Linked DNA regions of Homo sapiens: region 1 is linked to region 2. Evidence: fine-mapped expression QTL. A gene starts in region 2. The other region holds a variant in brackets. All regions are shown on one strand. Distances are from middle to middle. Region 1 overlaps MAFF (MAF bZIP transcription factor F). Region 2 holds the start of EIF3L (eukaryotic translation initiation factor 3 subunit L).

The links. PIP is the estimated chance that this variant, and not a neighbour inherited with it, causes the effect.
Region 1: its variant is the best candidate, but not a certain one, in a credible set for the expression of EIF3L in whole blood (TOPMed, PIP 0.61).

The regions. Positions count from the first base shown.
Region 1 is chr22:38,204,636-38,209,841 of GRCh38, reverse strand. The region is part of intron 1 of MAFF (MAF bZIP transcription factor F); the gene reads right to left. Among named protein-coding and RNA genes, the nearest start is that of MAFF, 5.2 kb to the right of the region's middle. RefSeq lists a cis regulatory region at 2,260-2,277, enhancers at 2,198-2,342, 5,182-5,206 and a silencer at 4,992-5,041. The variant C/T (reference allele first, on the strand shown) is at 2,218.
Region 2 is chr22:37,846,777-37,851,982 of GRCh38, reverse strand. EIF3L (eukaryotic translation initiation factor 3 subunit L) reads right to left here and starts at 2,564. Exons shown (of 13, transcript NM_016091.4): 1 at 2,501-2,564; 2 at 1,920-1,968; 3 at 493-703. The coding sequence starts at 2,533. MIR659 (microRNA 659) reads left to right here and starts at 4,209; the gene lies at 4,209-4,305. It also overlaps a transcript of ANKRD54 not described here. RefSeq lists enhancers at 1,878-2,399, 2,400-2,922, 2,923-3,445.

The DNA of each region.
Region 1 (5,206 bases), 360 kb before region 2:
TTTCCCTTTTTTTTTTTTTTTTTTTTTTGAGATGGAGTCTCGCTCTGTCGCCCAGGCTGGAGTGCAGTGACAGGATCTCAGCTCACTGCAACCTCCGCCTCCTGGGTTCAAGCGATTAGCTCTGCCTCAGCCTCCTGAATAGCTGGGACTACAGGCGCCTACCACCACGCCCAGCTAATTTTTGTATTTTTAGTAGAGACAGAGTTTCACCATATTGGTCAGGCTGGTCTCGAACTCCTAACCTCAGGTGATCCACCTGCCTCGGCCTCCTGAAGTGCCGGGATTACAGGTGTGAGCCACCACGCCCAACCCAATGCAGGCCTCTTAAGTGGTCACCCTCACCACCCTACACACACCTGGGGAGGTCCCAGCACACCTCCCTGCTGGTCTCAGCTCATTCCCACACAGCAGCTGGACAATCTTTGCACCACGCGAATCTGACCATGCCACCAGCCAGATTAAAGCCTTCCATGGTTCGGCTGGGCAAGGTGGCTCATGCCTATAATCCCAGCACTTTAGGAGGCTGAGGCGGGCGGATCACAAGGTAAGGAGATTGAGACCATCCTGGCTAACATGGTGAAACCCCGTCTCTACTAAAAAATACAAAAAATTAGCCGGGTGTGGTGGCAGGCACCTGTAGTCCCAGCTATCAGGAGGCTGAGGCAGGAGAATGGCGTGAACCCGGGAGGTGAAGCATGCAGTGAGCCGAGATCGCGACACTGCACTCCAGCCTGGGCGACAGAGTGATACTCCATCTCAAAAACAAACACAAAAACAAACAAGCAAACAAAAAAAAAACCTTCCATGGTTCCCTACTATCCTAAGGATGGAGTCCAGACCCACCCTCCCAGCACCCCAGGCCCTGTGTGTCCAGCCCCACGCCCATTTCCCACCACTGCCACCTCCACTCTGTGCTCCAGCCACACAGAATTTCTTTCACTTCCTCCCACCCGCGCTTTCTTGCCTCTGAGCCACCTCCCACCCCATGATATTTCTCTCCCCTCACTCCCCTCTACTTTGTTTGGCAGACTCCTACTCATCCTTCGGCCCTGGGTGCAGACATCTCCTCCTCCAGGAAGCCCTCCCTGATCCCTAGGACTTGTTAGGGACCCCCACCCCTGTGTGTAATGGGTTGTATTTCCTTGCTGTCTCTCCACCAGACAGGGAGAGGCTGAGTCAGCTCTGGGTGCTTGAGGCCACCCATCTCAAGACCTGGCAGGGAGCAGGCACTGGGGAAGGGTGGATGGTCAGAGTCTCTGACGCCATCACCCAGCTTGTCACCAAGCCGGGTTCCAAGCCGAAACGTAGTTCAGTACCTCCTGGCCCTGTCTCTAATTCTTCCTCCTCTCCAGCTGCTTCCTTGGGCCTGTTGGCAGAGACAGTACAGATGCTAGGCGAATGGGAAGAGAGCAGAGGGGATCCCATCCACGTGACTTTGGGCCCAAAGGTGGGGTGTGGGAAACAGGGAAAGGAGCACTGGATTGGGAGTCAAGCTTGGGTTTAAGTCGCATCTCTGTTTTCTCAGGCTGTGTGACCTGGGGTGAGCCACTCCATCTCTCTGGGTCTCCACTTTCCCATCTAAAGGATCGGAACAATACCTGCCTCGCAGGGTTTTGGTGGAATCAAGTGGTATACACTGTAGAGGTCAGTGAGCAGCTGGGAGGTTAGAATTGCTGTCTGTCCAGGAGGGGTCAGGCCTGTAGCCAGCACTGGGGTCTCGCTCTGATTTAGCATCTCCCAGCTGGCTGGGGTCACACAGGGAACTGCAGGAAAGGCCCTTAGAGGCCATCAGGTCCTGCCTCCTCCCTTTACCCAAGGGGAGGTAGAGACCCAGAGAGGGGCAGCACTTGCCTGAAGTCACACAATAGGTGTGAATGAATAGCTGCAAAGGCCCAGGACTGAAACCTGGTCCCTTCACACCGTCACCTCCCTGGTTCGCCCAACCCTGAGGTAATGCCCAGAGAGGACAATAGAGTAGTCCAGGCTCATACAGCCAGCATGGGGTAGAATTCAGGCCTGAGAGTTCAAGACCAACCTGGGCAAGATGGCTAGACTCCATCTCCAAAAAATAAAAAGATTAGCCGGGTGCAGTGGTGCACACCTATAGCCCCAGCTACTCAGGAGGCTGAGGCAGGAGGAACCATTGAGCCCAGGAATTCAAGGCGGCAGTGAGCTGTGATCCCGCCACTGCACTCCCTGGGTGACAAAGCAAGACCC[C/T]GCCTCTTAAAAAAAAAATTAGCCGGGTGTGGTGGTGGGCGCCTGTAGTCCCAGCTACTGGGGAGGCTGAGGCAGGAGAATGGCGTGAACCCGGAGATGGAGCTTGCAGTGAGCTGAGATCGCGCCACTGCACTCCAGCCTGGGTGACAGAGCGAGACTCTGTCTCAAAAAAAAAAAAAAAAAAAAAAAAAAAAAAAAAAAGATGGCCAAGCAAGGTGGCTCATGCCTGTAATCCCAGCACTTTGGGAGGCCGAGGTGGGCGGATCATGAGGTCAGGAGACTGAGACCATCATGGCTAACACAGTGAAACCCTGTCTGTACTAAAAATACAAAAAATTAGCTGGGCCTGGTGGCACACACCTGTAGTCCCAACTACTCAGGAGGCTGAGGCAGGAGAATCGCTTAGAACCTGGGAGGCAGAGGTTGCAGTGAGCCGAGATTACGCGACTGCACTCCAGCCTGGGTGACAGAGCAAGACTCCATCTCAAAAATAATAATAATAATAATAATAGAATTCAGGCCTGAGGCCACATGGAGCCACACACCTCCTCCCTGTGTGGCCCTGGCAGGGCGACCTCCCTGGGCCCTGTTTCCCTAGCCCTGTGAAGATGAAGCTGGACTTGCCAGTTTCCAAGGCCACCCCAGCTCTGATTCTCCAGGATTTGTGTTGGGCCCGCTAGGGATACGATTTGCAAGTTACAGTTAAGTATCCAGGCCCCCTTACCAGCCGTTTGGGGAGCTGGCACGTGCAGTGATGCTTGGCCACCTGAGCTACACAGAAAGACCCAATGGGAGAAGGGAAGCCTCTCCCCACGCAAGTTAATCAACTGCCCTTTGGGTGTTGCGGCTGATACAGAACCTCAGAGGCACAGTCTGGCCTCATGCACAAGTCATTTTTCCTGAGTCCTGGATTCCTTGCTAAGTGGGAATAATCACAATAATCTTGGTGTGTAAAATATAAAGGCTTAGGCAAGGCCAGGCGTGGTGGCTCACGCCTGTAATCCCAGCACTTTGGGAGGCCAAGGTGGGCAGATCATCTGAGGCCAGGAGTTCAAGAACGGCCTGGCCAACATGGTGAAATCCTGTCTCTACTAAAGAAAAAAAAAAATGCAAAAATTAGCCAGGTGTGGTGGCGCACACCTATAGTCCCAGCTACTTGGGAGGCTGAGGCAGAAGAATTGCATGAACCCGGGAGGTGGAGGTTTCAGTGAGCTGAGAACAAGCCACTGGACTCCAGCCTGGGCAACAGAGCGAGACTCCATCAAAAAAAAAAAAAAAAAAAAAGGAGGCATAGGCAAGAAAGATCACCTCATCTCACCATCATCCCACTATCCACAAGCAACAGAGACATCACTAACCACACACAGCACCAATTCCCAGTGAGGCAGGCCACAGCCCCTGAGTCTTTCTCAGCACAGAACTGTTTTCTCCTGAGCTTGGACACAGCCTAGAATCCTCAACACTGCCTCCAGACCAGGCCTGAGAGATGGAACCATCAGCCATTCCCTATCCTTGATAATAGCGGAAGCTGGCTGTGATTGTAAATACCCTCAGGTGCTAGGAAGGTTTTGAACCTGCTCTTCCCCCACTCCTCCATGCCCTCCTGTCCGAGCCTCAGCCCCCTCAACCGCATCCTGGATGTCAGCTGAGGCACCCACGTTTGCCCAGGAATGTCCTAGCTCAGCAGTCAGGCAATCACAGGGGGAAAGTCACAAGAAGGGGGAACTTTCTGGTAACCTCAGGCTTTCCGCTGCCAACCCCAGGCCAGGGGCTGCCAAGGGGCCTGGGTCCTCTGCCTTTGCCAGGCTGGCTGACCCTGGGCCTGAGAAATAGTAGCTGATCCGATCCCCTGTTCAGCACCTGAGGCAACCAAGCCACTGTTTGGTAGCCGTGGCGGACTGGAACCCAGGGGTCCTCTGTCTTCTATGTCGGCCACCACCACCTCTCCCTGGCTTCTTCCCTTGGAAGCCAGCAGAGCTGACCTCCAGGGTCTGCAGGTTCATGACGTCTTCTGGAGGCATAAGGAGAGAGGTGACTCTTGAGGGACTGACAACTGCCTTGTCCAGTCAGCAGCCACAACCCTCCAACGTCCCCCTCCCTGGCCCCACCAGTCCACTCCAGAGACATCCTGTAGAAGGCCCACCCGCTGGCATGGGCTCCTTTCTGGCTGCTGAGCCATTCTGCTCGCTCTGTGAGGACAGGGAAAAAATGTGTTTTCCTAGCTCTTGGCAGTCAGCACTGCTGGAGCCTCCTCCCTGCTGGAAGGGGAGCAAGGCTGGAAGAACCAAGCACCACAGAGAAGCAACGGCCTGGGGTTCCAGCCCCAGTTCAGGTACCCTCTCACACTCGCTGTGTGGCCTCAGGTACGGCACTCCCTCTCTCTGGGCCTCAGTTTTCCCACTATGCCAAACGTCCTCCGAGCCTAAGGTACCTTCCAACAATGACTGTCTCTGAGTTTAGAGTTTCAGATTCTGGCCCAGAGCTCCAAGACCACCAGCAGAATGGAGGTAGGGAAAGGAAAGCGGTGAAGGCTTCCTGGAGGTGGGGGCATGAGACACAAACTATCAGACTATCAGACTAGCCCTCTTCTCCACCTGCACAGCCACAGACCACTTCCTCCTTCATCTGGACCATGACCACAACCGCCTGCTCACCAGCCTCTTGCCTTGCCCTCCGTCTCCAATCCCCATCATTGATCCTCCCCCAAGAGCTGTCAGAGGAATCACTACTGACACAAACCCACGAGCCTGTCCGTGCTTGGCCCATTTCAAAACCCTGCAATGCCAGCCTCCCCGCAAGCCAACACAGTAGGGTCCTCAGGCCTCAACCGTATTCCTGTCCACTCTCTCCCAGGATCGTATGCTAACAGATGAATGAACAGACAGCAAATTCTACTATCCCTGAATGTTTCCCAAAGGGACAAGCGGGCAGTGCATGCCTGTGTGTGTGAGGGAGGAAGTTGCCTGAGTCCTGAAGGATTTGCTCGCTT
Region 2 (5,206 bases):
AAAATACAAAAATTAGGCCAGGCATGGTGGCTCCCACCTGTAATCCCAGTGCTTTGGGAGGCTGAGGCGGGTGGATCACTTGAGGTCAGGGGTTCAACACACGCCTGGCCAACATGGTGAAATTCTGTCTCTACTAAAAATACAAAAAAATTAACTAGGCATGGTGGCACATGCCTGTAGTCCCAGCTACTCGGGAAGCTGAGGCTGGAGAATCACTTGAACCCAGGAGGCGGAGGTTGCAGTGAGCCGAGATCTTGCCACTGCACTCCAGCCTGGGCGACAGAGTGACACTCCGTTTCAAAAAATAAACAAATGCATAAATAAAATAAAGTCTAACAAAATAAAATGTCCCTAGCCTCAAGGACTCACAAAGACCCCCACCCCCCAACCCCCCCGAAAGTACTGTTTACAGAGTGCTCACCTCATTTGTAGGAACTATATTACCAGGCCAGTCCCACCCAGAAAGAGGCCCTTTCAGCCAGTAGCCCATACCTGTTCTCATAGATGTCCTGGATCTCATACACCTTCTGGTCAATGACATCACTGGAGACACGACTGGCCTGTAGCTCATACACTTTCTGGTCAATCAAATCTGAGACAGTTTTGTGGAAATACTGGATGAAGTTTTTGATCACCTCAGGGATCACCTGATAGGTTTGCTGTTCATACTGACGTTCATAAGCAAGGTCCTGCTTTGGATCTCCTGGAGGTTGGATACAACAAATACAGAGTATGCTCAAACCCACATATATGATAGAACGAAATGGCAAGACCACCCCAGAAACTAAACTCAGGTCTGCGTAAAATTCCCTTTTGAATACTCAGAGATACAAACATCTCAAGTCACTCCCAATCTCGTTGTCCCTGTTTCTTCAAAAATATTACCATGACTTAAAGTTATTTTTCACTTATTATCTGTTTTGCACCCTTCTCCCAAGTCTAGGAAGTCAGGAATCTCGTCTGTCTTGTACTCAGACATACCCTCAGGGCCTAGAAAAGTGTGCGTTGGAGGGGAGAGAGGCAAGACTGTTGGAAAGTAAGTGGTAACAGGTACTTAATATTTCTTGAATGAATAACTGTCACCTTTTAAATATATGACTGTGCCAAGTTACTACTAATAAACCTCTCTGCTATATTTTCTATTCTTTAGGAGACATTAACATACAGAACTGCTGTAAGGATTAAACAAAATATTTCATACAAAGTACTTAGAACAATGGATAACACTGACTACTAAGTCAAGTCACTATAACGTTTCAGGAAACCTCAGACACCTCCTAAAAAGATTTCATTCGGGCTTGGTTTGAATTACTTAAATTTTTCACATCAAGATTTTCTTCCTTGGGGCAGGCGCGGTGGCTCACGCCTGTAATCCCAGCACTTTGGGAGGTTGGGGCGGGTGGATCACCTGAGGTCAGGAGTTCAAGACCAGCCTGGACAACACGGCGAAACCTCGTCTCTATTAAAAAAATTTAAAAATTAGCTGGGAATGGTGGTGGGCGCCTGTAATCCCAGCTACTCAGGAGGCTGAGACAAGAGAACTACTGCTTGAACGAGGGACGCGGAGGTTGCAGTGAGCCGAGATCGCACCACTGCACTCCAGCCTGGGGGACAGAGGGAAACTCCATCTCAAAAACAAAAACAAAAACAAAAACAAAAAAGCTTTTCTTATTTGGCTAATAGTTTACACAAGAAAACCATAGCCAGGTAAGTAATCCTTCTCTTCCAAGACTGAGGTGGACTATGATAAAAAGCCTGGTTTATTAGGCTTTATAAAACCCCTCGCACTGGCAGCTAATGACTGACTCCAAACCTGGACCATCAAAGAGCAATTTTTGATGCCTGTCAGAGCTGGTTCTAAGACATTCCAAAGGAACTGATCCCTACGAGTACTCAGCCAGCCTAACCCGTGGTCTCACCTGTGTGCATATCATAGTCGCTGGGATAAGCGTAGGGGTCATAAGCCGCCTAGAAGGAAAGAGACACAGTCAAGGACAGCCGCCAAGTCGTGAATTCAAAACGCTCATCCTAGAGTCTAGATGCCAAGCAGAGAGCTAAGGATACAGAGGCGAATAAGACACTGTGCCTGCCTTTGAGGAACTCACACGCCTTAGAGAAAAGGGACAGTAAACAGACAATGACAATACAACATTACGGGTGCAATGAGGTGGAGCAAAGGACAAGAGGCTGTGGGAATCAGCGAGATTTGACCAGACGGAGCCTAGACCAAAAAAACTCAGGTGCAGAAACACAGAAACGTCTAACAGGCCTTAGTCTCCGGTCTTAGAAAGGGGAAGGACAAGCCAATCGAACACGCGAAGTGGGCGGGCAGAGCCAGGGTTGTCTAGGGACCGGGAACTGTGGGAGCAGCCTGAGGGCCGGGCGGGAGGTCGGCCGGAGCTGGCCGCGACCCGGAAGCTGCCTCGCGCCGGGACCCACATCCAGTGGTCCCAGAGATCACCCCGTCGTGGAGCCCACCGCGCCCTTACGGCCACCTTACCTCAGACTCATAATCATCAGCGGGATAAGACATGGCTGCCTCGCTTGCGAGCACCGCCGGAAAGAGCGAAATGAGCGGCCCGCGCCTGCGTCCTGAGGCCGGAAGTTCAGCCCCACTCGGGCCTGCCGGGAAACCGGAAGCCTTTCCGAGGCCTCTGGCCATCTGAGACAGCCATATCCAGAAGGAAGAGGAGCCGCGTTCCGTGGCTCACACCTGTAACCCCACCAGTTTGGGAGGCCGAGGCGGGCGGATCACCTGAGGCTGAGGCCGGGGGTTTGAGACCAGCCTGACCAATATGGAGAAACCCCGTCTCTACTAAAAATACAAAATTAGCCGGGAGTGGTGGCGCATGCCTGTAATTCCAGCTACTCGGGAGGCTGAGGCAGGAGAGTCGCTTGAACCCGGGAGGCGGAGGTTGCGGTGAGCCGAGATCGCGCCATTGCACTCTAGCCTGGGCAACAAGAGGGAAAACTCCGTCTAAAAAGAATAAGAGGGTTACAAGTAGCCTGAATTTTCCTCTCTTCAAATAGGGACTTCTCAAAGAAGGTGAATCTATAATAGTGGTGTAGATTCAGATATAAGGACACGTATTTGGCGTAAAGGAGAGGCAAAGTTAGAGGAACCAGAAAGAATGCTACACAAAAGATGGCCGGCTTCTCGCGTGAAGGAAGATTCGGATACGGGGGCCTGATGGATTTAGTTGTAGGCGGTTTGCCTGCAGCGAGTAAATTATTCAAACGTTCGGACTTCACAAGACTAAACTTACTGGGGATAAAAATTGAGATTTGGCCGGGCGCGATGGCTCACGCCTGTAATCCCTACACTTTGGGAGGCCGAGGCGGGTGGATGATCTGAGATCAGGAGTTCGAGACCAGCCTGGCCGAAATGGCGAAACCCCGTCTCTATTAAAAATACAAAAATTAGCCGGGAGTGGTAGCGTCCGCCTGTAATCCCAGCTACTCAGGAGGCTGAAGCAGGAGAATCGGTGGAACCTGAGAGGCAGAGGCTGTAGTGAGCCGAGATCGCGCCACTGCACTCCAGCCTGGGCGACAGAGCAAGACTCCGTCTAAAAAAAAAAAGAAAAAAAAAAATTGAGATTTGGTCCCATGCAGTAAGAGGGAATGGAGAACAGGAGCCACCCAACTTTGGACATTAAAGTTGGAGCAGGCAAAGATGAGGCCAGCTGTGTCGCGAAGCCTGGGACATGGGCAGCTCTTGAGTACACCGGGTTCGAGGCCAGGGGAAACCCTCAAGGTAGAGATGGGGTTATAAAGCAAACCAATAAAAACCGGTGTATGAGTCAAGGAGAGGCCTTAGTTTAGCCATCTGCCCATACACAACACCTAGTGGAAATCCGAGTTCCAGTCCCTACTCCGCCACTGATTTGCTGTGTGACCAGGACTCTCTGGGTCCCTTTGTCACGCCGCCCTCCTTGCTTTTCCCACTGAGGCACGCTCCACCTCTGGGATTTTGCACTCACTGTTATCCAAGTCTAGAATCGAATGCAGTGGCACCCCCACTCCCATTCCCTTCCCCATCGGTATCTGCATGGCACCTTCAGGTGTCTGCTCTGATGCCATCCACTCAACATCCTATTGAGAATTGCAATGCCCAGCCCCAACTCCCTATGCTGCGTTCTTGTTTTGTGTTTCTTCCTTGTGCTGTCACCAGAGGTGACACAAATTTGGAAATAATGGAGCTTAAGCTTTACCGACCCTCGATTTGGTTCAGGACCTTCCCTGAACCAAGGAAGAGTCACAGTCTCTTCCTTGGTTCAGGGAGGGTCCCCAACAATGTCCTCATGGTCCTTTGCTTTTGTAAAATTTGTGAAATATTTTTATTGCTGAAACCACCTTTGCAAAAATTGTAACAGTGAGAAAATAATGACAGTGAAAGAGATCTGATCTAACCAACCCTCATCTTCCATTTAATCTTCAGACTGCCCTTAATCATTCCTGGCTCGAACCGAGCTAACTTTGGGAGACATTTAGTTTCTAGTTTAAATAATAACCCTTCTCCGAGGCCTGGCACAGTGGTTCACACCTGTAATCCCAGCACTTTGGGAGGCCAAGGCAGATGGATCACCTGAGGTCAGGAGTTCGAGACCAGCCTGGCCAACATAGTGAAACCCCGTCTCTACTAAAAATATAAAATTAGCCGGGCATGGTGGCATATGCCTGTAGTCCCAGCTACTCGGGAGGCTGAGGCAGGAGAATCACTTGAACCTAGGAGGCGGAGGTTGTGGTGAGCCAAGATTGCACCACTGCACTCCAGCCTGGGCAACAAGAGCAAAACTGCCTCAAAAAAAAAAAGAAAAAAGAAAAGAAATTGGCCGGGCGCGGTGGCTCACGCCTGTAATCCCAGCACTTTGGGAGGCCGAGGCGGGTGGATCATGAGGTCAGGAGATCGAGACCATCCCGGCTAAAATGGTGAAACCCCGTCTCTACTAAAAATACAAAAAATTAGCCGGGCGTAGTGGCGGGCGCCTGTAGTCCCAGCTACTTGGGAGGCTGAGGCAGGAGAATGGCGTGAACCCGGGAGGCGGAGCTTGCAGTGAGCCGAGATCCTGCCACTGCACTCCAGCCTGGGCGACAGAGCGAGACTCCGTCTCAAAAAAAAAAAAAAGAAAAGAAATTACCTGAAATCTTATAGTCCATATATGACAGGAATTTGATACAGGTTGCTCCAATTTGACAACAATTCTCA